Homo sapiens: one gene and its partner. The protein of the gene in region 1 binds, or shares a complex with, the protein of each later gene. Each region holds a gene or a part of one and is shown on either strand. Other genes may lie near its edges. A codon is read from its position in the direction of its gene.

Evidence for each region.
Region 2: the proteins of PTH2 (region 1) and PTH2R are in contact, whole or in part, in a cryo-EM structure (PDB 7F16), measured with the Homo sapiens proteins. Residues at the interface, in NP_848544.1 of Homo sapiens: Ser62 (codon at 10,704), Leu63 (codon at 10,707), Ala64 (codon at 10,710), Leu65 (codon at 10,713), Ala66 (codon at 10,716), Asp67 (codon at 10,719), Asp68 (codon at 10,722), Ala69 (codon at 10,725), Ala70 (codon at 10,728), Phe71 (codon at 10,731), Arg72 (codon at 10,734), Glu73 (codon at 10,737), Arg74 (codon at 10,740), Ala75 (codon at 10,743), Arg76 (codon at 10,746), Leu77 (codon at 10,749), Ala79 (codon at 10,755), Ala80 (codon at 10,758), Leu81 (codon at 10,761), Glu82 (codon at 10,764), Arg83 (codon at 10,767), Arg84 (codon at 10,770), Trp86 (codon at 10,776), Leu87 (codon at 10,779), Tyr90 (codon at 10,788), Met91 (codon at 10,791), Lys93 (codon at 10,797), Leu94 (codon at 10,800), Leu95 (codon at 10,803); in NP_005039.1 of Homo sapiens: Thr31, Ile32, Ile34, Gln37, Ile38, Asp68, Gly69, Leu70, Ile90, Tyr91, Asp92, Phe93, Met112, Lys117, Ala120, Tyr122, Leu126, Gln130, Pro131, Ser134, Lys137, Gln138, Phe141, Glu142, Tyr152, Arg190, Ile194, Lys197, Val201, Ile205.

What each region holds. Positions count from the first base shown.
Region 1 is NC_000019.10:49,417,919-49,433,290, reverse strand, and holds PTH2 (tuberoinfundibular peptide of 39 residues preproprotein), read left to right. Parts: upstream 1-9,849; 5' UTR 9,850-9,951; coding exon 9,952-10,079; intron 10,080-10,648; coding exon 10,649-10,823; 3' UTR 10,824-10,872; downstream 10,873-15,372. Other genes in the region: SLC17A7 (vesicular glutamate transporter 1), read left to right, coding at 331-480, 640-772, 1,843-1,953, 2,149-2,276, 2,479-2,772; GFY (Golgi-associated olfactory signaling regulator precursor), read right to left, coding at 4,473-4,672, 5,172-5,345, 5,678-6,860. UniProt on the Homo sapiens protein: Plays a role as a potent and selective agonist of PTH2R resulting in adenyl cyclase activation and intracellular calcium levels elevation. Induces protein kinase C beta activation, recruitment of beta-arrestin and PTH2R internalization.
Region 2 is NC_000002.12:208,444,792-208,461,068, reverse strand, and holds part of PTH2R (parathyroid hormone 2 receptor isoform 1 precursor), read right to left. Parts: coding exon 16,182-16,277; intron 10,321-16,181; coding exon 10,260-10,320; intron 1,175-10,259; coding exon 1,108-1,174; intron 1-1,107. UniProt on the Homo sapiens protein: This is a specific receptor for parathyroid hormone. The activity of this receptor is mediated by G proteins which activate adenylyl cyclase. PTH2R may be responsible for PTH effects in a number of physiological systems.

The DNA of each region.
Region 1 (15,372 bases):
AAACCCCCGTCTCTACTCAAAATACAAAATACAAAAAGTAAAAATAAAAAGAAAAAAAGAAAAAGACAGGTCCCTGAGGGGCCCGGACACCTGCGGACCTGAGAGGCTACCATAGGGCCAGGACCCCTTCATCACTCAAGTGTCACCTTGAGGCTAGGATCCCTGGGTCCCCACGGCAACATGGTGTAGCCCGCGCCTTTGGGTCCATAGAAGTTTCAGTGCGGTCGGGATCCTTTGGTTTCTGCAGAACTACACTGTGGTCCCTGAAGGGACGCGGAGAAGCCCTCAGCCCCGCTCCCCGTCTTAGCGGCCCTCCCCTCGCCCCCACAGAAGTTTAGCACTCCCTGGCGGCGCTTCTTCACGTCTATGCCAGTCTATGCCATCATCGTGGCCAACTTCTGCCGCAGCTGGACGTTCTACCTGCTGCTCATCTCCCAGCCCGCCTACTTCGAAGAAGTGTTCGGCTTCGAGATCAGCAAGGTAGAGCCCAGGAGGAGAGGGCAGGGGGGCGCGGAGGGGTCGGCGGGAGGGAACTGGCGGCGATCCCGAGGCAGGGAGGAGCCGGTGGTGCACGGACCGGGCAGAGACGCCGAGCCGGCGGCCCCGAACCCTAGTGTCCCTGTACACCTGTTCCCGCAGGTAGGCCTGGTGTCCGCGCTGCCCCACCTGGTCATGACCATCATCGTGCCCATCGGCGGCCAGATCGCGGACTTCCTGCGGAGCCGCCGCATCATGTCCACCACCAACGTGCGCAAGTTGATGAACTGCGGAGGTGAGTGGGGCGGGGCCTGGGCCGGCTCTAGGACAGCCTGGGTGGAGCAGAGCCGGATTGAGAGGTGATGGGGAGTGGTTACAGGCGGAAACCATCCAGCCTGCCCCAGGAGTCCCTTTCTATGCAAAGGGCCGTGGCCAACAGGGTGGAGCCGGGGCAGGGCAGGCCTGGATGAAAGGGACTGTCACGCGGCCGTCCAAGGGGCCACCGCGCGGAAGGGCAGGGTGGGCGAGACTTCCCGGGTGGAGCAGAGAGAAGACCGAGTTGGGCCTGGAGGGACAAGACCTGCACAAAGTTGGGTGTGGTAGGACATGAACTAGGTGATGAAGAGGCGCTAAGAGCAAGGCACCTGGAGAGACAGGGTCCTAGGGGGCCTGCTGTCTAACAAGTGAGATTTGCTAGGCGTGGTGGCGCGCGCCTGTGGTCCCATCTACTTGGGAGGCTGAGAAGGGAGGATCGCTGGAGCCCAGAACTGCGAGGCCGCAGTGAGCTATGATCGCGCCGCAGCACTCCAGCCTGGGCGACAGAGCGAGACTTTGTTTCTAGAAAAATTAAAATTACAATTAAAAATTAAAAAACAGGCAGGGCATGGTGGCTAACCCCTGTTATCCCAGCACTTTCGGAGGCGAAGGCCGGTGGATCACTTGAGCTCAGGAGTTTGAGACCAGCCTGGGCAACGTCGTGAGACTTTGTCTCTTAAAAAAAATAAAAAATCAAAAATTAAAAAAAAAAAAAACCAAAAACTCATGAGTGGGGATTGAGGGGAAGGTGTGAGCGTGCACAGCAGGGATCCTGCGTGTTCGGGGAGTGGCCTAGTCAAGGGGTGGAGCTACGGGAGGGGCGATGGAGCTGGTGGGCGTGGTCAGGGCTGGGTCTTGGAGAAGTAGGGGCCTGGTTAGGGTGGGTGCGGGTGGCGTGGAGGGCGCGAAGAGGCCTGGGCGTGGAGGTGGCCAGACTGGGGTGGATAGACGCGGTTTGGGGCTGGAGCAGGTCTGGAAGGGCGGTGTGGGGCAGCCTGCGCCTTGCTCCGGCCGACACTCAGGAGACGCGGGCCCCCCCCGCCCCCGTAGGCTTCGGCATGGAAGCCACGCTGCTGTTGGTGGTCGGCTACTCGCACTCCAAGGGCGTGGCCATCTCCTTCCTGGTCCTAGCCGTGGGCTTCAGCGGCTTCGCCATCTCTGGTGAGAACCGCGGATCCGCAGCTTGGGGGACTCTGGTCAGCTCTGTAGGGAACTTCCTGGCTCAGGAACGGGGCCTCTCAGCCTCACAAAAGGTGGAACATGAGTGGCGGGGAGGGGAGAGGGTTGAGAACGTCCCAGTGGGAATCACTCGAGTGAGATTCCGGTGTGACGCCTTCCGACTTGTCTCTCCGCCAGGGTTCAACGTGAACCACCTGGACATAGCCCCGCGCTACGCCAGCATCCTCATGGGCATCTCCAACGGCGTGGGCACACTGTCGGGCATGGTGTGCCCCATCATCGTGGGGGCCATGACTAAGCACAAGGTGGGTGCCGCAGTCCTGACTCAGTCTGCCTCCAAGTGTGTGCTTCGTACCTAACTGACCACGTGGTGGCACTGTCTCTGGGGTGCCATCCCTGCCTTTTCAGCCTCCCTGGGTCTCTGCCTCCCTTCCTCTAGGCCTCCCCCTCTCTCCGCCTCTGTTTCTCTGTCCTCCCATTTGACCTCAGCCCTATTGTCCCCTGCAGACTCGGGAGGAGTGGCAGTACGTGTTCCTAATTGCCTCCCTGGTGCACTATGGAGGTGTCATCTTCTACGGGGTCTTTGCTTCTGGAGAGAAGCAGCCGTGGGCAGAGCCTGAGGAGATGAGCGAGGAGAAGTGTGGCTTCGTTGGCCATGACCAGCTGGCTGGCAGTGACGACAGCGAAATGGAGGATGAGGCTGAGCCCCCGGGGGCACCCCCTGCACCCCCGCCCTCCTATGGGGCCACACACAGCACATTTCAGCCCCCCAGGCCCCCACCCCCTGTCCGGGACTACTGACCATGTGCCTCCCACTGAATGGCAGTTTCCAGGACCTCCATTCCACTCATCTCTGGCCTGAGTGACAGTGTCAAGGAACCCTGCTCCTCTCTGTCCTGCCTCAGGCCTAAGAAGCACTCTCCCTTGTTCCCAGTGCTGTCAAATCCTCTTTCCTTCCCAATTGCCTCTCAGGGGTAGTGAAGCTGCAGACTGACAGTTTCAAGGATACCCAAATTCCCCTAAAGGTTCCCTCTCCACCCGTTCTGCCTCAGTGGTTTCAAATCTCTCCTTTCAGGGCTTTATTTGAATGGACAGTTCGACCTCTTACTCTCTCTTGTGGTTTTGAGGCACCCACACCCCCCGCTTTCCTTTATCTCCAGGGACTCTCAGGCTAACCTTTGAGATCACTCAGCTCCCATCTCCTTTCAGAAAAATTCAAGGTCCTCCTCTAGAAGTTTCAAATCTCTCCCAACTCTGTTCTGCATCTTCCAGATTGGTTTAACCAATTACTCGTCCCCGCCATTCCAGGGATTGATTCTCACCAGCGTTTCTGATGGAAAATGGCGGTTTCAAGTCCCCGATTCCGTGCCCACTTCACATCTCCCCTACCAGCAGATTCTGCGAAAGCACCAAATTTCTCAAGACCCTCTTCTCCCTAGCTTAGCATAATGTCTGGGGAAACAACCAAAATCGCAATTTTAACAATATGCCTCTCTACCCCCGTGCACTTTTTCTGACATGGTTTTCAGGTCTAAATAGTGGCTGCTCCAGTCCATGAACTCAAAGGTTTGAAGCTACCACCATTGAACTCCCCCATGGTGGTTTCATGATGCCCCCTCCCCAATTCCTCGCACTTTATTCTCCTGGGTGGTTTCGAACTACCCTGTTTCTCAGTGGCCATTTGTTGTGTCCCTCAGGGGCTTAATGACTCAAAATCTGGGATCCTTCCCCTCTCAGACACCCCTCTTTCAGCTTAGAATTTGGGGAACCTATAGAGAAGTCACAGAATCCCATGAAAGGGAATGGGGCAGGAGCCAGGGGTGTTTTTTCCCAGTGCAGGGTTGTGTCTTTGTGTCTCTGTCTCTGTGACTGTAAATCCTGCCCTGCCCCACTCCCAATAAAAGCTTTGGTGTATAGGCTCAGTTGTTCTTGGCTGTGGAGGTCACAGGCATCCTGGTCCCCAGCCCCGTCCTCCCTCAGACCGAGGAGTTCAGGCCCCTAGCTCCTCCTTCCTCAGTTCCAGGGATCCAGGCCCCAGCCCCTCCTCCCTCAGACCCAGGGTTTCAGGCCCCCAGCCCCTCCTCTCCCGGACCCAGGAGTCCAGGCCCCAGCCCCTCCTCTCCCGGACCCAGGAGTCCAGGCCCCAGCCCCTCCTCCCTCAGACCCAGGAGTCCAGACCCCCGTCCCTCCTCCCTCAGACCAGGAGTCCAGGCCCCAGCCCCTCCTCCCTCAGACCCAGGGGTCCAGACCCCAGCCTCTCCTCCCCAAGTTTCAGCGGTCTCAGACTCCAGCCCCTCCCACCCCAGGGCTCAGGCCAGAGGAGGGGTCTAGCCATGGGAACATGATATTTATTCGGTCTCAGACCTTGTTCTCTGATCACAGCGCAAGCATCTCTGTATATTAGACCCTTTATCCGGGGCACTACTCTAGCTAAGCATACCAGAAGCGCAGGGTTTTCCTTCACTGTGGGGATGTGCAGGTCCGGCAGAACTCGGTGGGGCTCACACGAAGTTGTTGGGGAGCGTGGCGGGGGACAGGGCCTCCAGACGCTGCGGGCGACCCCCGCGGGGCGGCGGGGGCAGCTTTGGTGGCAGAGGAGGTGTGGGCGGGGGCTGCTTGGTGGCGATGTGGGAAGGGACCCAGGTATCCGGAGCATAAAAGTAGAGGTCGTAGGGGTCTTTCGGGGCGTCCAAATGCAGAACTGTGGGTGCAAAGGGGCGTGGTCATCTCTGGGCTGACCCTCCAGGCCCCCTTCCAGATCATCTCCAGGGCCGCTTTTGTGCGGCCGACCGATCAGGAGGCCGGAGAGAGGATTCCGATTCTGCATTTGAACTGAGTTTTCAATAAAAAGGGTGGGGGCCGCTGCAGAAACCAGGAGGCGTGGCGTCCGATCAGCAGCGGCGGGGCCTGCAGTGGAGGGCGGGAAGTACAGGGCTCCGGGCCGCGTACCTGGAGGGGCAGGGGCGGGGCTGGCGGGGACGGCCGGCTCTGGGCCTGAAGCCGTTTCCAACCGCATTGGGAGCGGCACTGGACTCTTGGGTGAAATTGCAGACATTTAGGGGGCTGGACGTTGCCATGGAAGAGCCAGGGCTTTCATTGACCTTGGGTGGGGGACCTGTGCTTTTTTGGCTGGCGCCCTGTAGTGCCGGGAGAGACCAGGTTATGGAAAAGTGCAGGCATTCAAGGGGCAGGGCGCTCACCCGGTTCATCTCCGTCGTCCGGAAGCCGGTGATGTGCGAAGGGCCGCTGTCTAGCTGCCCGGCGGTAAAGACACCACAGCAGCACAAAGATGCCGATCAGCAGCGCGGTCCCCGCGAAGAACAGGCAGAGGGCCCCGCCTGCTGCGCCACGTGGTCGCCCCACCAGAGTCACGCCTGAAGGGGGATACCAGCAATCTAAGCTCCTAACCCCCTCCTCTCTCAGACCCAGGGGTCCAAGCTCCTAGCCCCTCCTCCCTCAGATCCAGGAATTCCTGTTCCCAAACCCTTCTCCCTCAGACCCAGGAGTCCAGACCCCAGCCGGTCCTCCCTCGCACCCAGGAGTCCAGGCCCCCAGCCCCTCCTCCCTCGGACCCAGGAGTCCAGGCCCCCAGCCCCTCCTCCCTCGCACCCAGGAGTCCAGGCCCCCAGCCCCTCCTCCCTCGGACCCAGGAGTCCAGGCCCCCAGCCCCTCCCTCAGACTCAGGAGTCCGGCTCCTGCCCCTCACCGGTCTCCTTCACTCGCTCCACCACGATGATGGTGTTGACTCCCTCACCTCGGCTGTGCCTCTGGGGTGCCCGCAGAGTGGCAGGGGCCAACTGACTGGGGCGCCCTGGAAGAGCAGGGGGACCTGCAATCCGGGCTGAGGGAGGAGGGACGTTGGACTCCTTAGGGCCAGAGTTCTGGGGGGCCTTCAGCTCAACCATTCCTGGAGAATCTGAAGTGGGCAATTTTGGGGAGTCGGGCTGGATGGCTGCAGGTGTTCCTGGTTTGGGATTCAGGGACAGCTCATTTAGAGCAGTGGCGTCATCCTTGAAGGGCACAGGTGTTTCTGGGTAGAGACTAGTGGAGATTTGAGGGTCGGAGGTCCTGGGTACATCTGTTGCATTTTGGTAGTAGGTTGTGGGGAATTCTGTTTGGGAAATTTCGGTGGGGCTGGGATTGTGGGTCACATGGGATTCTGGGTGGGGGGTTTTAGAAGGGTCAGGATGGAGAGCTTGGAGAAATTCAGAGTTTGGGGTCTCAGTGGAGTTGAGGTCATGCTTTTCTGGGGATTTGGGGTCAGGGGTCTTGGTAGGGTTAGTGTTTGAGGTCTCGGGGAGTTCTGCCTGTGAGACTTCAGTGGCATTAAGCTGCAGAATCTCTGGGGATTCTTGGGGTGTAGTTTGCATAAGGTCAGTGTTTGGGGTCTCAGGAAATTCTGGGCGTGAAGTTTTGGAGAAGTTAGGTTTGGGGGTCTCAGGGGATCCTGGGTGTGGCATTTCAGTTGGGCCAGGTGTGGGGGTCTCAGAAGACTCTGGGTGTGCCATTTTGGAGAGGTTAGTTTTGGGCATGTCCAGGGATTCTGATATTGAGGTTGTGAGTGAGTCAGCTTTGGGGGTCTCAGGAGACTCTGGGTGCGGGGTTTCTCGGAGGTCAGGGTTGAGGGGCTCAGTGAAGTCAAGTGGGAAGGTTTCCAGGGAAACCGTATGAGGTAGCTTGGAAGGCTCAGGGTAAGGAGTCCCAGGAAATTCTGGGTTAAGGCGATCTCGTTTGGAATTTTCAGAAGCACCCTTCAGAGGGGAAGTCTCAGAGGGGTGGGCCATGTCCGGAAAGCCACAGCCCAAAGGCAGAGGGGCTGAGGGAGCGGCCTTGGACCTCAGGCCGGCGAGGAGGAAGACGAGGAAGAGGATCCGGCTGAATGATTTCATAGCTCTGGCAGATACCTATAGCTGCGGGGGAGAGCGGGAAGGAAGGGGTTAAGGCCGAAGGCTCCCAGGAGCCCCGCCCACTCCCGGAGGCCACGCCCACTGGAACACAGGTGGACCACGTCTGTCCGGGGCCCAGCTTGGCGCCAGGGATGGGAAGAGAACCCAATCGCAAGTCCCTTGGAGGCTTGTGGGGCGATGGCCCAGGTAGCCAAGAGAGACTGAGGCGCGGGGCTACTTGGGAGTCGTAGTTAATTTCCTTATCTGTTTCAGCGAGGGGTCCTAGAAAAATTGGGAAAGAACGACACTTCTCCAGGCCTCAGATCTCCTCGACTTCGACTTTAGGGAGTGTCAGGGCTTCGAGGGGACGTGGGATCTCCTTCCTCTCCGAGGTCCCCCGGGACACCTTGACTCAACAGTTGTTTACACTACAGGAGGCTCCTAACGGCTGAGGGCTGGACTCATGGATTTGAGGGAGGAGGGAGACATTTGGGCTCTGGGTTAAGAAGGTTGCTGGGGGTTCAGACTCCTGCGTCTTGCAGGGTGAGGGGGCTGAGGTTCCTGGCTCCTGGTTCTTTAGAGAGGAGAAGGCTGGAAGTTCAGGTGCCTAGAATTTTGAGGGAGCAAGGTTTGGGGGCTGGATTGCAGGGGTGAAAGGAGATAAGAGGCCTTGAGCTCTTGGTTCCTGAGTTAGAAAGGAATTGGGAGCTCTGAGTCCTCCAGAAATAGGGTCTGGGGTCTGGGCTCTGCAGAGTAGAGGGGTAGGGACTTGAAGAAGAGAGCTTTGGGGCAGGACTCTCAAGTCTGTTATTGAAGATGGAGCTAGGATTTCGGCATCTCCGGGGCCAGTCTGGGCAGAGAAGCATAGGTCTGTGTTCAGGTGGAGGTGGAGGCGGCCGACACATCGATGGGACAGGCTTACTTGAGGTCCTGGGGTCTCTTACCTGCTCTGGTGTCCAAGGTAACAGCAGATAAGCAGAGCTGGATGCAGAGAACGGTGAATGTTGCAGAACAGATCTGGGCAGGGCGGTGGGAGGTAGGGTCTCAGGGGCACACAGGTGACGCACCTCACCCCCTCCCAGGGGATCCTGGGAGCCTAGCGACAGACTTAGACTCTTAAAGGGACAGAAGTAAAGGACATTTTCTCTGGGGTGGGGAAGGGAGTTAGAAACTGGATTGATCTAGTGGAGATGTGGCCCAAATTATTTTTTTGAAACCAGTGGTCCTGGCCCTCTACCCTCTCCTACCTGAAAACCCAGGGGTCTAGTTCCCTGGTACCTTCCTATTTCAAGTCCCCTAAGTTGTATCCCCCAGCTCCCTCCCCCCAGACTCAGAACTCCAGTCCTCTAGCTCCTTCCTTCCTCAGATTCAGGAATCCAAGTCCCCAGCCTCCTCCTTCCCCAGAACATAGGAATCTGGGTCCCTGTCCCATCCACTCTTAGACTCAGGAGTCCAAGCTTCTGCCACCACCTTCCTAGGAAACTAGGAGCCCAAGTTCCCACATCCCAAGTTTCTACTGCTCTGTAGGACTTCCAAGTTTTGCCCATCTTCTCCTCACTGTGTATAAAGGCCCCTCTTTTTAAATTTTTTTTTTTTTTTGAGACAGAGTCTCACTCTGTTGCCCAGGCTGGAGTGCAGTGGTGCGATCTCAGCTCACTGCAACCTCCCTCTCCCAGGTTCAAGCGATTTTCCTGCCTCAGCCTCCCAAGTAGCTGGGATTACACCACACCTAATTTATGTATTTTTGTAGAGAAGGAGTTTCGCCATGTTGGCCAGTCTGGTCTCGAACTCCTGACCTCAAGTGATCCACCCACCACGGCCTTCCAAAGTGCTGGGATTACAGGCATGAGCCACAGCACCCGGCTGAGGCCCCTCTTAAGAGTCAGTGTGGACTGGGTGTGCTGGCTCACGCCTGTAATCCCAACACTCTGGGAGGCCAAGGAGGGCAGATCACAAGGTCAGGAGTTCAAGACCAGCCTGGCCAACAGTTTGGCGAAACCCTATCTCTACTAAAAATACAAAAATTAGCTGGGCGTGATGGTGGGCACCTGTAATCCCAGCTACTCGGGAGGCTGAGGCAGGACAATGGCTTGAACCTGGGAGGTGGAGGTTGCAGTGAGCCGAGATAGTGCCATTGCACTCCAGCCTGGGCAACAAGAGCAAGACTCCATCTCAAACAGACAAACACACACACACAAAAAGAGTCAGTGTGAGGAGGACTGGGCTTTAATCTTCACAGCACCCCCAAACTCCTCCCAGATAAGGGCTTAGACACATCCTTAGGGCAGCTCAGGAGCCCTGTCTGTTTTCCCCTCTTCTCACTCTCTGAGGTTTTTCTGATGTGGTCTGTCACTTTTCCTGTCCTCACACCCCTGCCACACGTACCCTTTGCCATTTCTTGCCTTTCCCCCCTCCCTACCTCACCCTCGATCTTTCTGGGCCTCTCGCTGCTGTATTTATCTCTGGGCAGCTCCTTCCAGACCAGGACGTCCTTCCATTTCCGTCTGTCTTTCTGAGAGCCTTTTCTTTCCCTCCTCCATCTCCATCTGACTGTTCGTTTCCATCTCCTTCGCTCTCTTTTCTTGTTTTCTTCCTTTTCCTTTCTTTTTCTGTCGTTCCCATTCTTTCTCTCTATTTCTTCCTCGGCCACTCTGTCTTTGTCCTTCTCTTTGTGTCTCTGTTCCTCTGACGGTCCTTCCGCCAGTCTCTATTTTTAGCCCTCTGACACACCCCCTGTGTCCACCTCTCTGTCTGTCTGTCTCTCCCCCTCCCTCGTCTCAGGTCCAGCTTCTGGTCCCAATTAGTTGGTGGCGGCCAAGGCAGCGGCAGGTCCCCCACCCCCGGCTCCTCATTACCGCTGGCGGCTCCTAATGAGCCTGGGGAGGGGGTGACCCCGCGTCCCCGGCCCCCCGGCCTGCGTCACTGCCCGGTGCGGGGGCTGCGGAGGCGATATAAGGGGGCTGCCACCATCGCTGCCCCAGCCCACTGCACGGTAGGGGACTGTGCGGGAAGCTGGGGGTGGATGCATGGTGGGGCCCGGGGTTCTGGGCCGGGATGCAGCCCTACTGAGCCCCTTTCTGGTTCTCCACAGGTGATGGAGACCCGCCAGGTGTCCAGGAGCCCTCGGGTTCGGCTGCTGCTGCTGCTGCTGCTGCTGCTGGTGGTGCCCTGGGGCGTCCGCACTGCCTCGGGAGTCGCCCTGCCCCCGGTCGGGGTCCTCAGGTAGGTGCCAGTCCCAGAACTCCCAGGGAGGGGTGGGAACTTGGAGAAGTGGGAAGAGAACCAAAGAGAAAGGGGACGGAAGATCCAGAAAGCGGAACAGAAGCCCAAAGAGAGGGCGACCGAGACCCAGCGAGAAGACAGAGACTAGGGGTGGGGGAAGGCGGGAGGAGGGTTTGGTGGTAGTGGTGGTGCGGGAAATGGACAGAAAATCAGCAAGGGAAAGAGACACAGAAAGATAGATCCCGAGAAAGGCGTGGAGAGGCTCGAAAGGAGTCGTTGCAGAAACGGATTCATTCTTTGAGCAACGTTTATTGGGTTCTTGGTGTGCGCCTGGCCATGCGCTGAGCGCTGTGGGCGGACAAGTGCATCAGACTCGGTCTCAGTACCTGGGGAGTTTCGAACCTGGTGAGCAGAGAGACAGAGACCCACACAGAGAACGAGAGAGACAGGGGGAGCCGGACCGAGCCACTCCACGGACTGGGCAGTAACGGGGCTTCGAGTTAGACCGCGGGGAGGACAGGCGGCGGCAAGAGCGAGTCTGGACGCGCGGTCACCGCGTCTCTCCACAGCCTCCGCCCCCCAGGACGGGCCTGGGCGGATCCCGCCACCCCCAGGCCGCGGAGGAGCCTGGCGCTGGCGGACGACGCGGCCTTCCGGGAGCGCGCGCGGTTGCTGGCCGCCCTCGAGCGCCGCCACTGGCTGAACTCGTACATGCACAAGCTGCTGGTGTTGGATGCGCCCTGAGCGCGCTGCCCGTCCCCATCTTAATAAAGACCATGCCCTGCGCTCCGGACTGCGCCTAGTTCCTGCGCGACCTGCGTGTGCGTTGGGTTGGGGGCGCGGGGCTTGAAATGGGGGGTAGAAAAGAGACAGGACTCTGTGTCGGCCACTCTGGCATCTCTCTCCTCAGTCCCCACTCTATTTTCTTTCCTCAATTCCGTTTCTCTCTGCCTGTCTTTGTCCAGGAAGCTGGCTTCTTTCCTATTTCTGGATCTCTGCTTCCCTATCGCCCCCACCCCCCCGCCCCCTCCTTTCATTCTGGGCCCCTGTCCCTCCCTACCCCCATCTCTGTCCCCTTCTCTCTGGTTCTCTGTAATCTCCAAGGTCTCTGTCCTCCTCCGTCTCTGTCCCTTTCTCTGGGTCTCTTTCCTCTCTGGGTATGTGTCCCCGTCTCCCTGGGTCCTTGTGGTTATCTCCCCTTTCACCCTTTTGGCTTTCTGGTCTTCTGGGAATCTCTGCCTCCTCTCTCTATTCTCCTTCTGCCTCTGAAACTCTTCCTTCCCTTCTCCATCACTTTCTTTTTTCCTTTTTCCTCTGCCTGACTCCTTCATATCTTCCTTTTCTTTCCTCCGTTAGGTTTCTATCTGTCTCTCCATCAGCTCTCATCTTTGAATTTCGCTGTTCCTCCCTCCCATCACTTCCAGACTTCTCCCCAGGCACAGTGGAAAGATCGCGGGCTCTGGTGTGAGGCAGCCCTAGCATCCAAACCCAGGGTCCTCCAAATCTAGCTGCGTAGTACTGAGAAAGCCTTCTTGACGTCAGTCTCTGTGTCTCCTTTTCTTCATCTGTTACGAGGATCCAATAAGATATACTTCATAAGACTTCAGTACAGCGCCCGTTACGTAGCAAAACGCTTTTATTTGAAAAGGGTTTCCTCTTCTCACAGCAGCGTCCAGCAATTTTTTTCAGGGTTTTCTGACTTCGGGTCTCCTTCTCTAGAGACCTTCGGGGCGCCAGGCTGGGGCAGGAGAAGAGAAAGGAGCAGGCGTCAGGCTCCAAAAAGGACAGGGAAAGGGCGGGAAGATACCTGGGCTGCAGGTGAAGCGAGAAAAGAGCCAATCGAAATCTGTCTCTCTCCCCGGAGGTCCAGCCTGCCCTTCAGCTCCGCCCCTCGTGGTAACCATGGCAACCCGGTGGTCCGCAGAGGGCTAGATCAGCGCGCCTGGGGCGCCGTTCGTGCGGACCGCGCTCTCATTGGTTTAAAGAAGAGAGTGGAGCCGGCCGCGTCTGCTGCGCGGGAAGCGGGGCCGCCGCGCGTGTTTGGCAAGGCGTCCCAAAATTTGCATTTTCGGGAGGCGGACCGAGCCCTAATTGGCCCTTGGACTGTGGGGGCGGGACTGTTTCCTCTGTCCTTCCGAATAACAAAGGAAAGACTGCATTCCTCAAAACTATCTGGAGTTGGCCTAATTTTACAAATAAGACTGAAAGTCAGGAGGAATTTTCCTAAGTTGTTAGAGCTACTAAGCGACAAAAGAATAACTGGAATCCGGGTATGTGCAATTTCAAAAGTCTAGACTTTTCCGCCACTCTCATGGAGAAATGGAATGAAAATGTGAATGAGCAGTTGCTATATAGCAGGCACTCTTCTAAGTGCTGTGCTTGCATTAACTCTTTTAACCTCACAAAGACCCTATGAAGAGCCTCCTCCTGTTTCCCCGCGGGCCTGGTAGCTGGGTACTGGCCTGGTCTCTTCCCACACTCTATTTTCTTCCCGATCCGTATCAGAACATTTGAGGTTTTGCTCAAAATGGTGTCTGGAGCCTCCTCCCTCCCCACTCTACTCTCAAGCAAATTCAGCAGTCCCCACAGCTTCTGCCACCACCCACAGCTGACAACACCCAGACCCCCTTCTCCAGCCTGGGAGCTCAGGGCTCAGGACTCCAGCCCCTAAATGAACTGAGTCTTTCTCTGAACTCACTCCTTATCATGGGTTCCCTATCTTGGGAATGGCTCCACTGTCTACTAGTCACTGGGCCAGGTCCCAGGGGTTGTCCTTGTCCTGCCCCTTTCGCCATCCTTCACAGCTTGTCAGTCTCCAGCCCGGTCCCTCCCACCCTGCCCTGGCTCTGCTCTTCCCTCCTCTCCACCCACATGCCCTGCCTCAGGCCTCATTCTCTCCAACCTGGACCACAGCCCCAGACTCCTCCCCACCTGCTGGCCTCCATTCTCATCCCCTTCATTCATTCATCTCCTCCACAGGCCCTGAATGCTCTTCTTCCTACCCAGAGTTCTGCCTTCCCTTGCTCACAACCCTTTTACCGGCACTAGGGAATAAAGTTCAAGCTGGTGTTCAAATCCCTTCATGGGCTCTTGCCTACCTCTCTTATTTCCCACCACTCTGTAGCCTTCAATCCCTCCCAGGCTCCAAATCTTTAAAAAAAAATTTTTTTTTTAAATCCAGCAACAGGATGCCGCCTATGGCTCTCCAGACACACTGGTCTCTTTCCCACCTCTATGACACCCTCCCTGGGCCCCTGCTGACTGTAACCCAAACCTTACCCATCTTTCAAGACTAAACACAAATGTCACTTGTCTGGAAAGAATCCTGTAACCTCCAAGCCGAATCAGTTGCCTTTTCTGGACTCTCACAGGACCTGCAGCTACCTCCATCTGTCTTTAAATAGGTCCGATTCTGTCCCTCCCTTGCTCAAAACTCTCCAAGGAAGCATCTGGGGTGCTGAAACTGTCTACTCTCTTGACCTGGGCTGTGATTTTCATGGGTATATACGTACACAAAAGTTTATCCAGCTGATACTTAAGATTTGTCTGCCTATCTGTATGTAAGCTGCGCCTCAATTAAAATGTAAAAAACCAAAGACAAACAAGCAATAAAACCTCCCAAAGCCCCATCATTCTCAGGAGAAAATCTAAGCTCCTCAGCTTGATGTTGGAGGTCCTGCTTTCCTCTACAGCTTCATCTTCTAAGGTCTAGCTGTTGCAAAGAGATGATGAACACATATTTGTTGAATGAATAAATGGCACCCTGGTGCTTTTCCTGTTTACCATTTGCACTCTAGAGGACAACTCTGGTGTGTGCCTGGTCCTCATCCCTGTCCTCCTTTTTCTGTAGAGTTGCTGCTGCCTTCGACAGCTGTGACTGGAGGGTCTGGTGGGGCTGCCAATCTCGTGATCCTTCTCCTTGGCCACAGGGATGGGCATGGGCCCCACACACTGCCTGTCATAGCAGCCCAACCCCCTGGGAGCTGGGGAAGGGGACCCTCCTTTGACTCTCCTGGTTGAAGGTGGGGCCCTGTCTCCTTCCTATCTTGGGATTTTCCCAGGCAAGGAAGGATGTTCAACTCATAGGCTGCTACAAACAGCAGACAGCCACCGTGTGAGTTCATTTGCTGAACTGGACTCAGACTGAGTTTGGATCCCAACTCTCATAATTTTTAGCTGTGACATCTAGGTCAAGTCATTTAACTTCTCTGTGCTTCAGTGTCTTCATGTGTAAAGCAATAATAGCACCATCTACTTCCTAGTGTTGAGGTGAAGATTAAATACATATCTCAAAGTGCCTAGCTCAGCGCCCTCCCACCCTGGGGCCAGCCATCCTGGGTGTCCACTCTTGTTGTTTACAGGGAGCGTTGGAGCCATGGTGTAAGGATCTTGCTGGCGGTGCTATGAGGCAGGCAAAGCTTGGGGCATTCCCTGCATAATACCATGGGCCACATGCCACACAGAGTGGGTGCCCAATCATGTATTCTTTTCGGGAGTAGGGTAGGCTTCTCAGACTCCATCTGCTTCCCTTTGGTGTCCTCAGCTTTACTCCAGCTGGGAAGGGGCTTACAGCATAATGATGCCTCAGAGCTGCACCATGCAGATGGTCCATGTGAATAAGAGGGAGGGGTTGGGGTCTCGCATGTGTTTTTTTAATTTTTTTTTTGTTTTTTGTTTTTTTTTTTAAGACACAGTCTCACTCTGTCTCCCAGGCTGGAGTGCAGTGGCACAATCTCCACTCACTGCAACCTCCGCCTCCCGGGTTCAAGTGATTCTGTGCCCGGCCCAAGAAGATTGTTCTTTATTGACTTAGGATGCAGTTGGGACTGGGTCAACCTAGGCTGCTACCCGTGGAGGGGTGGCAGGACAGAGTCAGGATCCTATCGGGGGAGGGCAAGGCAGAGCTGTAGAGAAGGTAGGAAGGAGAAAGAAATCAAGGAGAAGAGGTATCCTGGAGCCCTTCGAAGCAGCTTGGCCATGCATGCCAAGGCCACTCAGCAGCTGCACACTGGTGGTGGTGTGTAGGTGACTCCCAGAGTGTTTGTTAGGTCCATGGCCTGCAGTGTTTTTCAGTGTGAATGAGGTGTGTGGCAAGGCACTTTCAAGGTACCCAGTCCCCGCAGAGGTACTTGACCTCCCAGGTCTCCCAGCCTCCCTTACAGTTAAGGGTGGTCACACCAAACAGTCTGGCTAGTGAAACAAACACAAGTCTGCTGGTGGCTCTGGGCAGGCAACTGCTTCTCTTTTATTATGAATATGATTTGAATCTACCCACTGCACACTGAGGCTACTG
Region 2 (16,277 bases), on another chromosome or scaffold:
CTTCTAAACTGAAGATTCCTTTTGATCTCTCCTATTTTCTTTATGCATTTTTCCTATGAGGTAAATAAGCTTTTATCTGATTCTTTGGATGAGGTTACAATACCTCAACTACATTAATAGCTGCCCTTCTGACAAAGTAGGTGACACATTGTCCAAAAGAAAACAAGAAGAATATGAAACTGGGAAACAAAGAAAAACATCAAAATTAGTTAATAATCAAGTTGCTACATTGTTTTCTAATTTAACATTTATTATCAAGATAGTAATTATTTTTTTAAAATGCTTGTAATATGTATTACATACATGAACACCAGGAAAACACAAGGTGGTGTAATTTCTTCAACAACCCAAAAGAAGCTGATGCCTTAAAGTCTTCAAAGAAGATCAAGAGTAAACATTTTGATAAGTTTTATTAGATACAAAGAAGTGTGTGGTTTTGTTTTCCTTTGCAACACAGATGCAATGTGCATTGGAAATATTATAGGCAGATAAGGTCCAGTGCAACATGCATTGTGGTCTTTCTCCCTATTATTAGGTTAGTGAAAAAGTAATTGTGTTTTTTGCCATTACTTTCAATTCTATCTAATACCTATTAGATAGAATTATGTGGGATACTTCTTGGTATAAGATGTACTTAACTCCTTGGGGAAAGTATGCCAAATAAAAGATTTAGGGAATACTTTATACATCATATTACCATTCTTCTCTCTCAGTAATTTCTCTGTTTTCCTGCTATTCCACCTTTTCCTCCCTGTCACACTGACCTACTACCAGGTGATCAGAATGTTAAAGTGGTAAAATAATATCGTGGATGAAAAGGAGACATAGGGCCTTCCAACTCCCTAAACATATAAATGCTCATAGATATTTTGAAGTCTCGGAATTGACCCCAAGTGCTAGCTGATTAAAGGAAGGCTTTCTGCATGGATCTCAGTGTCAGTCACAATAAGGGTCTGATCTCTGTCCCAGACTCTCCCAATAGATGTTGCTGTACTTGTCAGTTTCTCAGATCTGTTGTAGAATGCAGTGACAGACACACTTTCTCTGGGTTTTAGCAGCAGGTTAATTTTTCATCCCTTTTTTAACTATACAAACTTTTAAACTTACCCCAATAGCTGCTAAGATCGGTGCTTGATAAATCCACTTGATGTCTCCAGCACTAAGTTCCCAGCACCTGAGACATTGAAAAAAAGCTGTCATGAATAAATTGGCAAAGCAAATGGGTAGTATTAAGTAGAATTTTAAGTTTTACCAAAAACTCCAACCCCACACTTCCAATTAAGAAACAAATAGACAAAGAAATCTTATCTTAAAACACCCAAGCCAGTGGGGGGAAAAAGTGTAACGGGTATTGATTTTCATATTATTAGCTACCCCTTGAAGATGAGTAGAGAATTATAAATATTAGTGAATTACTTTTATTGTGACGAGAGTCAACCATGTTTCCAGAGCCACAAAAGGTAATAGTCTTCTAAATGTCATACAACTGATACTTCACTTTTACTATTATTGGAATGAGCCATGATAATTTAAATTCACTGATAAAGAAAGTTCTCTCTCACAGACATTACAGCAATTCTATTTTACTTCAAAAATTGTAGAATCCTTACAATAATGCAAGTTATTCTTATTCATAGAAATGCAATAGAAAATGAACGCAAACTATTCCTGTCCATAGAAATGAAAATTAGCTATGATGTTCAGTGGAATGTAATTGATTAGTATCCTGTAAATATTGAGTAGTTTTTGCATTTATTTGTAAATTTTTGGTATTTATTGTACTGAATGTAAATGTGGTTCTTTAGATTTCTCCTTGGAACCAATCATAACACCTTAGTAGTTCCCTCATTAACTAATGAGGTTAAAATATCTAGAGAAATGCAAATCAAAACCACAATGAGATATCATCTCACACCAGTTAGAATGGCTACTACTAAAAAGTCAAGAAATAACAGATGCTGGTGAGGTTAGAGAGAAAAGGGAACCCTTATATGCTGTTGGTGGGAGTGTAAATTAGTTCAACCACTGTGGAAAGCAGTATGGCGATTCCTCAAAGAGCTAAAAGAAGAACTACCATTCAACCCAGCAATCCCATTACTGGGCATATTCCCAGAGGAATATAAAGCATTCTACCGTAAAGACACACGTATGCAAATATTCATCGCAGCACTGTTCACAATAGCAAAGAAAGACATGGAATCAATCTCAATCCCCATCAATGACAGACAGAATAAAGAAAACGTGGTACATGTATACCATGGAATATTATGCAACCACAAAAAAAACACAAGATCATGTCTTTTGCAGGAACATGGATGGAGCTGGAGGCTATCATCCTTAGCAAACTAACACAGGAACAGAAAACCAAATACCACGTGTTCTCACTTATAAGTGGAAGCTAAATGATAAGAATTTGTGAAGACAAAGAAGGAAACAACAGACACTGGGGTGTACTTGAGGGGGGAAGGTAGGAGGAGGGAGAGGAGCAGAAAAGATAACTATTGGGTACTGGGCTTAATACTTGGGTGATGTAATATTATGTACAACAAACCTCTGTGACACATGTTTATCTACGGAACAAACTTTCACATGTACCCCCAAACCTAAAATAAAAATTTTTTTAAAAATCTTTGACAGCTGTCCATTTTCTATTTGTATAAGATCCACGACCTTATCCTAATTTTAAAAAGTTTGTTTTTAACAGTACTTAATTTAAAAATTATATAATTTGCCTATTTTTTATATTTGGTGCTTCCCTTCCACCCTAACTTGAGTTTAAGTTCTACATGGGCAGAGATCACTGTTGTTTTTGTGTTCTGATGTATTGCAAGTCCTAGAACAGTATGTAGGTAGTCAATAAATATCTATTGGATTGAACTGACATCAATTGAATTCAAATTAAGTTTTACTCATGCTCACCCAATCTGGTTTGTACTAGTAAAGATCTTACACTGGAATAAATAGCACAGAAATGATAAGAAACTAGTACGACTTGGCACTTTAATATAACACTTGAAACAAAAGACGCACAAATAAAAGTCTTAAGTTTCTTTCTCTTTTCACAAAACCCAGTATTGATTGTGGCAATGGCAAATAATATAAAGAAATTTGTGGGATATAATGATAGTTTTTTAATTCTAGATAATGAACTTATCACGAACTTACTTTTTATTAATGAGCAAGCTATAGATAATAAAATACCATTTTGACTTTTCCTTAAGGGTAAAACATTTTCAGTACACACTAAGAACTACATATTTTTAAGTTTAACTTTTACATAGAGGCAATATGTTCTCATTTTTAAAATCAAACTATATAAAAAGACAGCCATTGAGATGTCTCAGTCCTCCCCATGTTCCTGTCTGCCTCTGCCCCCATCCCTCTCCTTACAGATAACACCTTTTATTACCATATTGTGTATGCTTCCCATGTTTATGCATATGCAAACAAATACAAAGGTTATATTCTTACTTTCCTCTATCATACAAAAATGTCATGTATGCACTATTCTGCAATTTGCTTTTTCCTTTTAAAAGTGTATGTTTTATTTCTTTGCATATCTGTACCAATAGAGCTCAGCAGCTCCACATTCCAGTGGGAGAATATACCACAGCCAAATCAACCAGAACCTACACTAAAGTGTAATTCTGGTCCAGCCAAAATGAAATGCACATATTCAATTGTCTTGAAGTTTGAATAACATGGAAATTTAAGACACAAAAATCTTACACTTGCATATTATTGAACATTTTCTGGCATTGTTTACATGTATCTGTTTTTCACATTATTTAACCAGACAAGAAAGATAAAAGACAATGTTACTGAGTTATGCAGAATCACATTACCCTAAAAAAGCTTTCTACCATAAGGAAGGTGGCATATATCATGTGACTGTAAATTGAACATTGATTCACTTAGCCAAGATCTAAGCTACAAGGCTTTCGGATTCCCTAAATTTTCTTTTCAGTTTTTGACATTTGGTAATATCTTCACAGTCTTCTTTCTTTGCTTTAATGGCATTTCATCATGGTGTCTCCTAACACATTGGGATTCAATTATACAATTCAGGCTCTATAAAATGCTTGCATTTGGAAGTAGGTCAAAACCAGCTACCTCTAAAAACATGAAAAACTTGTCTTTGATGGTTTTCAGTGTCAAAGTTTCAAATTTCCCCTGTGATATAGGAAAGAAAATTGAGATTTCAAACTTTTTAAAGAAAATGTTATTAATGCTTGTTTTTAGTTAATTCTTCAATGTTCCCACTCACACTGTCTTTGTTAACATGTCCCAGAAATTACTCTCTGTTCAAATTTTTTTAATAAACTTTAACCTTCTAGGAAATGCAGTTCTGGATGGTGAAGCATGAGATACAAAGGTCTGACTAGAAAGTGGAACTTCCTACAGCCAGGGTTGAAAACAGGTGTGTTGTTCTGCCCAAGGGATCCAGAGAATTGAATTGGCTGAGCACTACCTTCTCTCCACAACTTACAATCAGTAAGAGTAGAAGAAGCGAAAGAAGCTGACCCCAAAAGCCTGTGCAGATGTTCTAGAAATGTCAGATGGCTTCTTGGTCCTTTGCAGCCCCCACCTTTGCTGCTGGATGGTGAAACAAAAATACAGCAAAGAAGTTATGGGTTTCTTCTCTCATTGGCATCTCTTATCTCCTTCGAATGAGGCAAAGAGAAGATAATCAGATTACCGTGTAAGGTGTTTTTGCTTTTGTAAGTAAAAAGAAAGAGAACAAAATTGCTCACTTTTTAATTTAATTTGCCCAACCTACTTGATTATCTTAGCTGACCTTAGTAAAATAACACTCTTTTTTTTTTTGAGACAGAGTCTCCCTCTGTTGCCCAGGCTGGAGTGCAGTGGCGTGATCTCGGCTCACTGTAGCCTCTGCTTCCCCAGTTCAGGCGATTCTCCTGCCTCAATCTCCCAAGTATTTGGAATTACAGGCACGCACCACCACGCCCAGCTAATTTTTTTTGCATTTTTAGTAGAGACGGAGTTTCACCATGTTGGCCATGCTGGTCTTGAACCCCTGGCCTCAAGGGATCAGCCTGCTTTGGCCTCCCAAAGCACTGGGATTACAGGCATGAGCCACCTTGCCCAGCCCAAATAACACCTAATAGAATTTTAAATCTGAAAGAGACTTCTTTTGTATATCAATAGAGTTTAAGGTATCTTTTAAAACTGGGTCTGACATGCTTATCTCCAAATAGCCAAGATGCAGAGAAAATCAGAGGTTTCACTTTGAAAGGCCAGATTAGAAAACATTGAGTCTCAAATATAAGACATGAATATGAACCCCATTCATCCTTTGAAGATATTTAAAATCTGTTCTCTCCCCAGAGTGTTGTCATATGGCGCTATATAGGTCAGATAACACCCAAGAAAACCCACAAAAACTTTATCTATAGAAAAGCTGAATTTTATGTGAAGTTGAATCAGGCAATTTTGAAATCATCTCAGAGAAGTGGCAACACAGTTTATGTTTACAGGCAAAATTAAATATAAAATGACCCTTCATCCAATTATCCCAGATCTGGGCACTGTAGAATTCAAGATTTTATTCTGATAAGTTAGGAAGAAAGTGGAATATTTTGCAAGGTGGTCACATGATATAACTAATTGAATGAATGAGTCAAAATTCTGCTTCAGTCTAGCGGTAAGCTTTGAGAATGTGTCCTGATGTCTCTGGATCACATTTTACTTATCTCTAATATGGGATGATTGAACCAGAAAATGCCTTAAGTCCTATCATCTCTAAAATTCTGAATCTAGGTCATACAGTTACACATCTCAGAATATGATCATGATAGCATTAATTAGTACCTCTTTACTGATGCAACTTCCCTCCCATGTAAATCAAGTAACAGGTATTGCAAGTTTTCTTTGAGATTTGCAATCTCACTGTGTGTATATAGCAATAATGATGTCAATTAGATAACATCAACCCTCAATTGTTAACAAATTCAAATAGCATAAAGGGATCAAAGTAAGGAAAAATGCAAAGCCAGCAAGTTTTAGAACTGAGGGAAGCTGATGAATGGGGAGCTTTGAAGCAAGTAGGAGGAAGGCTGCACCTAAAGACAATGACTCTGTACAGTTCTAATTTTCAGGAACAGTGAGTGACAGGTTCTTTATAGAGTTTAGGTATTCACAGTATGTGATTTTTTTTTCAGTGCATAGCAGACAAAATAATTCCTGAAGGAAATATCTAGTAACTCAAAACAATATATTGGCTTAAATAAAGTTCCCAGGAGATAACAAAAAGGGAACTGCTGTCACAAAGCGTACACAATCTGTGGATATTAAATTGTTCTCTATTAACATAAAAGAATGCTTGGCATTACTGCATATATAGGTTAAAGCTGCCTCTCTTTAAATTACCTTTTCTTTATCATAAGTGTGTTAATCTGCTTGACGTGTGATAGCAAAATACCACAGGCTGGGTGGCTTAAACAATAGACATTTATTTTCTCAGTCTGGAGACTAGAAGTTCAAGATCAGGGTGCCAGCATGGTCCTGTTCTGGTGAGACCTCTCTTCTTGGCTTGTAAGTAGCCTCCATCTCACTGTGTGCTCACATGACCTCTTCTTTGTGTGCACAGAGAGAGAGGGAGAGCCAGCCTCTCTGGCATCTCTTCTTATAAGGACACTAATCCTTTCATAACAGGGCCCCACTCTCATGACCTCCTTAACCCTAATTAGGTCCTTATAGACCCTATCTCCAAATAGAGTCACATTGGGGGTTAGGGCTTTAACATGTGAATTTTGGGAGACATAATTCAGTCCATAGCAATAAGCTTGACCATGAGAGCAAAGCGCAGTTACCTGAATGCTTTTCTACTTTTTCCTATTCTTTCTCATCATTATTTAAATAGAAATAATACCAAAAAAAAAAGAATTTTTTCATGTTCATTCATCATGTAGCCCCTCAAGAGAAACACAGACAACTGGGGGGCTCTGGCCAAAGTCCATTTGAGCCAACTGAAAGCCTTTACCAGGCAGCCTCCCTGCAGTCAGCCCCGGAGGCACTTGGGTCAGACAGAAGTAAAGGGCGACTTACAAGCTATCAGACACTTATAAGGAATGATAGGAGATGGGCGGTCAAGATTTTTTTCTGTTTATATATAATGATCGGGCCTTAAAAGTTACTGTTTCTTTACGCACAATGAAGGTAACATTTATTGTTTGTCTAAAATTTGGAGTTTACAAAGCCCTTTCATAATGGCCTCTCATCTAATTCTCAGATCTGTCCCCTGCAAACTCACAGCATTAGTCATGGCCAAGAATATTATTCTCATCTCACAGATGGAAGACTGAGGCTGAGAATGACTGCTGCAAGTCATGAATGGAAGAAAAACCACACCTCCTTATAACTCACAACTTGCATTAACTCAAACTTTATCATTGCTTAATAGATATGGAGCAAAGAGAGAAAAAATGGTCAGCCGAATCCAGAAGAATTGATCAGCATGCACTGAAGAGTTATCTACTGTAAAACAGGGAATTTCATTTATGCCCATTTGGAATTCATGGTTTGTTGGAAAAATGAGACAGTTACACTTGCACATTTAGAGAAATAAGATGATAGATAAGAAAGGAATAATTATATAATATGCATACTAAATGCTGCAGGAATTTGATAAGGAAGATTTATATGGTAGAATAGTAGATTTCAAACGCACTAACAAGGTAGAGCATTTGTAGTTATGGTTTTCACCATGAAATGCAGATATATTTAATTTTATCATGTGAATGAGAAAAACATATGCCAGGAGACAACACTGCATGTATACATGCAATACAAATACACAGGCATGAGCTTATATGTCAACAAAAAATGGGAATTGTTGAAAAGTTAATGGTAGGTGATAACCTATTTCTGATTTAGAGAACAGAAAGAACTAGAAGTTTTACCTCTCTGAGGTAAAAAGACAAAAGGCTAGACATAGTGAAGATAAGAGAAAAACTGTCTAGTGTATGCTGGACATTTTCCACTGTGTACTCTTGATTACCAGATGTGTTAAATCAACTGAAGAGTGAGAAGCTATCAGTGATACTGTAGAAAGAATCCCTCTTCAACTCTACTCCTTCACATATAATAAAAATTCCACTTATCTCAATAGAAACACCTCATCCGCCTGTAAGTGTTTTCTGAATGCCTCTAGAGCCTGAATATCTGAGATCAAAGTACTTTTCTACCATTCGTGGCTGTGCAACCTTGAGCACAACTTCTCTGACCTCAGTTTCATAGAGTTAATAATGAGTTTTAACTTACTTAATATTTGCAAAATTATGAAGTACCTGGAATGTGATCAGCACTCAGAAATGCCAGAAAATGTTTTCATTATTACTTTCCTCCAACATCACGTATTATTACCCAATGTTCTGGTAATTATCTTCACAAAATGCAAATTTGCTGTCGTTATCACTGAACGAAGACCAAACATCCTAATCTGGCCTATGAGGGTCTATAAGGCCTCCACCCCTCATCTTTTCTACAGCCTAATTTATAAGCTCTAGCTTCAGCAGAACCAGGGTTCCATCAACTTGACGGGATAAAAATCAAAATATTATAAGCTAGGATTAATGGAAGGATGAGTTTGGCTTTCTAATGAAATAACAATATACAAAAATGCTATTTTTTAATTCTTTAGACATTACTTGTGAATACAAATTAATGAAGCCAAAGAATAATACTTGCTAACAAGTATTTAGCACTTACTATCAGTACATTCCAAACTTTGCATTAGTTATTTTACATACATTATCTCATTTATTCTTACAACAACAACTCTGTAAAGAGTAGTATTCATTTTAACTGCATTTGACAGCTGAGAAAACTGAGGCTCAGAGAGGTTAGGTTGTACATCTGCTGTTCCAGAACCAAGAAGTAGCAGAACAAGCCTATAAGACACCTGTACCTGAGCTCCTTCTCAGCACACTCCCATTTAGTGCCAGGTACTATGCTAAGTGTTCATAATAATGTATTAATGTCATCTATACATTATTATCTCTGCTTTATACATGAGAAACTGATACACAAAGAGATCATGTGTTTTGGGTCCGTTGGTCCCTAACCTAACAAAGCAGTTAAATCAAGATTTGAACTCAGGTCTGTCAAAATATAAAGAAAGGATTCTTTACTATTTAATGCAAATGTACCCTTTACACTTAAATGGTTATTTAAATGTATTAGGTGTACCATGATACATTAAAATGTATCCTTAAAAATGATACATTTTAAATGATTTATAGCATTGTTTTCTTGTACTTTAAAATGACACATTAAATTAGCTCCATGCTACCTGGAAGAACTTAATGACTCACAGTTAGAGATAAATTCCACTTCTAATATGTGTTTATTATTTTAAAATATTTAATTCTGCTATAGAAGATATGGTAACAAATGGGATGCATGAAACCCACAGTTTGCATTAAATATAGATAAGGATGAGTTAGTAGACCACACGTGTGTTAAACCCAGGTACTAAAGACACATGAGGCAACTGAGCTCTAAACATTCATAATATACTAAATATACAAGAGCCATGAACAATCCCTGATACAAAGGAAGTTCTTAATATTTTTGAGGGCATTATCAGCCTCAAAAATATTTTGATTTTGAGGATTCATGGATTGATGGAACTCCTTCCCACATGTCCTTTTCCCAAGGGCCACAAATAAAACCCAGAACTTCTCTGCAGGCTAATTCAGAAGCTACAAATGTAGCCAGTGTACTTGCCTCTCCATCTCTATGAGGAAGTATGTGTCACTGGCCCAGGGCACCAGATTCTGTCTGTAGTTCCCCTTCGTGCTACCTTATCGCAGGTCCTCATAACCACACCATCCTCAGGAAAAGTTGATGTGGCAGAGAGAGAGAGAGAGAGTATGAACACTGCCTATCCTAGGAATCAGGTAGTGTAGTTCTTCAACCTGCTTTCACTAAATCCTAAGTGGATTCTCTTACCCATCTCTTTCCACTTGCTTCTCACATTATATTTTACATTTGTTTCTTAATCTATGGAGGTCAGGCACCTTCATCTAGTCTGCGAGTGTTTCTGCTCTATGACCTCTGGAATAGACAGCTTGCTGGTAATGTGTTGGAAGCTACCATCGCATCAAGGTAATTTTCCTTGTGGCATCCCTAAAAAGCAATGGCATCAAGAACAGAAGCGAGTGTGAATTCTGAGCAGGAAGCCTGAGTCTTGAGAACATCTGAGGTTCTCTCGTTTCCCCTGCCTTTTCACTCACCTCGCATCAGCCAGAGTTGCTCGTGCCACAGCCCATGCTGCAACAAATGCTGCTGGAAACCCTGAAATCAGAAAATGATTCAGAGACTAGATTTATTTTAAGATTAAGGAGGTTTTTTCCTCAAATTCACCATATATAAGAATATACTATTAGCTGTTCAGAGATAAAAATAGACATGAAAATTTCTGATATGTGAACAAGAAAAGTCCACTTAATTTTTAATCATGTCAGTTTGAGAAATTAGCAAGAATATTGATGTTATTTGTTCCTCTAGTCTGAAGATAAAAACTGGCCTAATTTTCATCTGAGGGGTGTAGGGAAAAGCCATATTTGGAGAAGAGTGAAGTTCCTAGGGTTGGAAGTAAGCAATGGTTGGCATTTGACTTTGACTCTTGTCACGCTGACCATCATATGCTCTCAAGGAGTGAAGCAACACAGGGACTCCTGAAAAGCTGAGGGATGCTGTTGTTTTAAAAACTTAGAATTTTTTCATCCTAAAAATGGAAGGCATACTGAGGCAAGTTATAAAAATCAGGAAGTTTTAACCAGTTTAGTCTCTTCTTTTAGTTCACGTTGGCACAAGACAGAAGCATTTTCATGCATTAATAGAAAAGGGTGACCACTATATTTGTCTGATGATTTGAGCGCGAGATATTTGTCCTTCATAAGTGCTAAACACCTTCTGGGCTTGTAACATCAAATCCATTATACCGACTTTCGTTTGCCCCCCAGTAAAAGTTCACTGTCCAGCTCATGTTGTATTTGATTAAACTCTGACATCACACACAAAAAAATCATGAACCATAACTTATATGGAATACTGCAGTAGGGGACTGAAAGACTTAAGAGATGACTTTTCATTATGTGGCCTTTATGAAAGTGGTTTAAATAAAGGATATACAGAAACCATAAGGAAAACATTTTAGAATCTAGGAAGCACCTTACAAAAGGGGAAAACAAAATTTTGGTCTAGCCAAGAACATTTTTTATCAAGCATAACTTTAAATTCTTAACCTTTAAAAAAATTGTAATTTTTTTATATTCTTTCTTAGCAACAAAGTGAACAAAGAAATAGGCTTAGAAAAAGAAAATTTTCAGAAAAAGATGAAAATGATGATATGCACAATAATGTCTTTGGTCTCCTTAGTGACCATCTAACTTAAGTTCAGCCTGCCTATATCACTACTGAATTTTATGATTCTATATTCCAATTTTATTTCTTGTTTCTATAGTATTCTTTCTTTAATCTGCTCAAATTCTGTGTTCTAGGAATTTTTTGTCAAAATAGACCTACCTAATTCTGGTTATTTCTTAGGTTCAGTTTGCATATTCTATCTATCTATCTATCTATCTATTTATCTATCTATCTATCACATTTCTCCATTAATCATTTATTGTCTATTTATGTGTCAAAGATTGTTCTAAATGATATAAATAATGAACAAATAAACAATATCCCTGTTTTCTAAAACTTATATTCTGGTGAAGCAGTCAAAATTAACAAAGCAACTTCAGTTGCTTTTGGTTATGAATTGGTGCTATGAAGAATAAATAAAAGTGATACTATGTAATGGGGAGGGGACAGCTGCTTCTGGTAGGATGATTAGATATAAATCCACCATACAGTCTGGCATAGATTCTACCACATGGCCTGACATAGATCCCTCAGCTGTTCTATCTTGGTTGTCTTCAAAAAGTGTCTGCCTGTCTTTCATCAATTTTCACATCTTATCATTCTTATATCTGCATCTTCTGCTTCCTTTACATTCTTCTGATCAGGTACTTCCTGAATGCTGTTCTATACAGTATTTATTAATGGTGGTTGAGTTGGCATTATGTTTTAGATGATAATTATGTCAAATATCGTACACAGGCATTATGTCTTCATAGAATTGCTTTTCTCACCTTCTTAGAGAATCTTATGCATAAGACTAGCATAGAGACTACCATGGAAGAATGAAGAACAGAAAACTACTTTGGGATCCTTTAAGGATTTTTTATCACGAGTCTTAATATGAATTGTTACATAATTTAGAACACAGAAATAAAGGCAAAAATACTTGACATGTAAATGTTGTTTTAAATTTAAATGTTAAATTAAGTAAATTTAATATAAATTTAAATGTTATCTAGTATGTGCATTTACTGAAAGTTGAGTTATTTTCTTTTTTTTTTTGAGACGGATTCTTGCTCTGTCACCCAGGCTGGAGTGCAGTGGCATGATCCCGGCTCACTGCAAGCTCCGCCTCCCGGGTTCACACCATACTCTTGCCTCAGCCTCCCCAGCAGCTGGGACTGCAGGCGCACGCTGCCACGCCCGGCTAGTAGAGACGGGGTTTCACCATGTTAGCCAGGATTGTCTCGATCTCCTGACCTCATGATCCGCCCACCTCAGCCTCCCAAAGTGGAGTTATTTTCATAAGACACGTCAATACAAAATAAATAAGTTTTGTGAAGACAAAACTTTAAATTAACTTTAAAATAACTACAAATTAAAAATGTTGAATATGATACATATGATCACAACAAGAAAACAAACAAAATAACCTAAAGGGTCAGAGTGCATGCATCTTGTGTGGGAGACTTTAACACCTGTCTCTGTGTTTAAACACTTACTGCCAAGTGGATGATCAAAAAATGTTTGCTGGATTAAGATATTTTACAAAGGGAATAAAATGGGAGTGTGGGACTGTTTCCTGATTATTTTCAGGGAACATATTATGTGAAAATATTCTATGTAAGATGGTATTACTAGGATAGGTGGTTTTATATGATGATATGTACATACTGGTGTTTCATCTGACAGTTGAAAATTAAGGATGGCTACTAATATAGAAGCAAATTACCATATTTAGTAACAATAAAAAAAAGAGATACCTTTTACATACAGAATTAAAATAGAGGAAAATGTGTAGTTGAAATAAAATGGAACTAAGAATAAAGCACCTTATTTATGGGAAAACTGAGACAAGGATGGGGAAAATAATAATGTGCTTGGTTGAATGAAAAGAAACAGTTATCATTAGTATTCACCTTTATTCTCTATGCATCTTGTTTTATAATAATAAAATGTAAAAACAGTTATTTTAAATATTTGTCCTTAATTTAGTAAAGGTCAGATATGACACCTATTCTTCTTCAGATTGTCATTTCCTTTCCTTCCTATTATTTATTTATTTATTTATTTATTTATTTATTTATTTTTCTTTTTGTTTTTTTTTTGAGATGGAGTCTCGCTCTGTCACCCAGGCTAGAATGCAGTGGCGCGATCTCAGCTCACTGCAAGCTCCACCTCCTGGGTTCACGCCATTCTCCTGCTTCAGCCTCCTGAGTAGCTGGGACTACAGGCGCCTGCCAGCACGTCTGGCTAATTTTTTGTATTTTTAGTAGAGGCAGGGATTCACCGTGTTAGCCAGGATGGTCTCAATCTCCTGACCTCATGATCCGCCCGCCTCGGCCTCCCAAAGTCCTGGGATTACAGGCGTGAGCCACTGCGCCCAGCCTCCTTCCAATTTATTTTTAAGAATCATCATAATCAGATTGCACATGGTCGCTCACATCTGTAATCCCAGCACTTTGAGAGGCCGAGGCAGGAGGATTGCTTGAGGCCAGGGGTTCAAGACCAGCCTGGGCAACATAATAAGACCACATCTCTAACAAATAATAAGAAATAAAATAATAAAACATTTAAAAAGAAAAGGATCATCACAATCAATATAAGTGTAACTCCACACATTACTACAATGTGACTAACAGAGTTCTGAGTATTTATCTAGCTGAAAAGAGCTTAAAGTTATAAACATTTGGGTCCAAATGAGTAACAAAGGAATTTAAGCAAGTTCTCTGCTCTAATGAAGCCAGTAAATGGCATCATTGGAAGTAAGTATAAAATTGGACTCGCTCTCAGTTATTCTAGCAAAGTATCCTGCAAGGCATATATAATGTTTTTGATCATTTAGAAAATGAATTTAGAAAAATGAGTCAGATATATAAATAATGTTTTTAAATCAGTCTCTCAGTGTTGAGATAAGAGAAAGACAATCCATAAATCAAACAGATTTTGATATGTACTTCATTCAGTGATAGCTGTGTTTTAGGAGCAGAGAATCTTAAAAGAATACTACTATTATTTTCATTATATATGCCCTAGACTAGAGTATATTTTTAAAGAATGGAAATGCAAAGAGAAAGTCAGAAGACAGACTAGCTGTAGAACCATAATTCCATGAAGAATAGTTATTACTCTTTTGACTTGTGGCTAATTAAGTGAGCAAAATGTGGCATGTAAAATGCGTTCACAGACAGTTTCCATGAAAAGTCAACCGGTTTTCATGTGTGTTCTCAAACTATTTCACGAAATGAAGATTTCTATTGTAGTTGTCATTTCTATGCCTAAACTTTTGTGGGCAAATTAATAAAAGCTGTAAAGGAAGGTAAGAAACCATACTTGCATAGAAGCTCACTAGCACCTTAGCTTTTCTTCACATTCTCTTTTTCATAGAAAGATTTGTGTTTTCTGAGATTCGGTGGGACAAACTCCTAACTGTAAGGAGAGACAGACTGAGTGATAAAGCCCAAATAAAGAGTTAATAAGGAGGCTTGCACCAGGTAGCTATCAAGGCATAAATAAAGAGAAAAAAAGAATTTATTAAAAATGTAAGCAATGATGAAGAAATTTGAAAAATAAAATATAACCCAAATAAACAAATGTCTACATTCATTATTGAATTTTCTATCAACACCTTTTCCAACTCCTAATAATTATGTGGGTTCACAGATATAATTTTGATTTGAAGGAAGGCAAACTACCACAAATTGTCAAGAAAATTTCCAAAGGATCCTAAAAAAGCAAAATATTATCTTTTTTATTTTCAGTAACTGCTAGTCAAAGATAAGAAAGAGCCTTAAAACAGACGAGCTGTCTACAAAAATACAACTTTAATTGTGATGATTATTTCATAATAAATAAGTTTAACAGTAAATTGATTTTCTTTGTCTTCTTAAAGGTTATTAATTAGCTAGCAGAAAGTTCAGCATTCTTTACTTCACATTTCAGTTGTTAAGAAAAAAAGTTAAGGCAAAATAGGCAAAGGCATATTCTTATTTTGGAGAGGAAAAAAACCTTCAAATTTAGTCGTGAGCTACTTAGTGAATTTTTTTCCTATGCTGAGCACCTCCTAATTTAAATATTAAAATAGCAATTGAGATCTGCAACTGTTAATCTCCAACCTCTTCTCAATTTTCACCACATATGAGTTTTAATTTCCCTTAATTTTTAACAAGCAAACAATTTCTTTTCTCCATGTCATGTTGAGTCAGTGTCTAATCCAGTAATCCCCCTTGTACTGCTAAATCATTTTTGAAATGAGAACTGAATACTTTTTTAATTACTTATGCCAGAAGTAATTTGAATAATTTCCTTCTAAAACACATGGTAAGTCCACATAATTAGTTTGTAATTTGTATTTGTTAAATACAGTCAGGATGGTCCTACAAATTCATTTCTGGCATTCTCATCATATGACCTAGAAATACAAACCAAAAATATATCATTATAGCTTAGAAATTCAAAAATAAAAAATTTTAAGATGAAATTATTGATAAAGCAGAACACTGACATTTAGTTGTACATGTGTATGGCTTACAATGAGTTCTCTTATATTTCCTCCAAAGAATCCTCTCAAGAATCTGGCCTAAGAACACTATCCACAAATAACTTTAAAAGTTTGTCACCACTGGGAGAATTATAGACTTGATCTTAATTATTTTTGTCTAAGAATAGAACAATAAAAGGGAGATAAAAAATAAGAATGGGAGGGATTGTTTCAGGAAAATGGCTGTAGGGATGCTAATGATGGGCATGACAGAATGTCATCAAATGCATCATCCAGTTTGAAAGGAACAGAGATATAAATGTCTTACCCCAGCCTATCAAGATGAAGCCCCACAGGTATTTGGTGTCCGAAAAGAAAGCCACAAAGATGAGATTATGCAGGTAGAGACCTTCCACCAGGATCC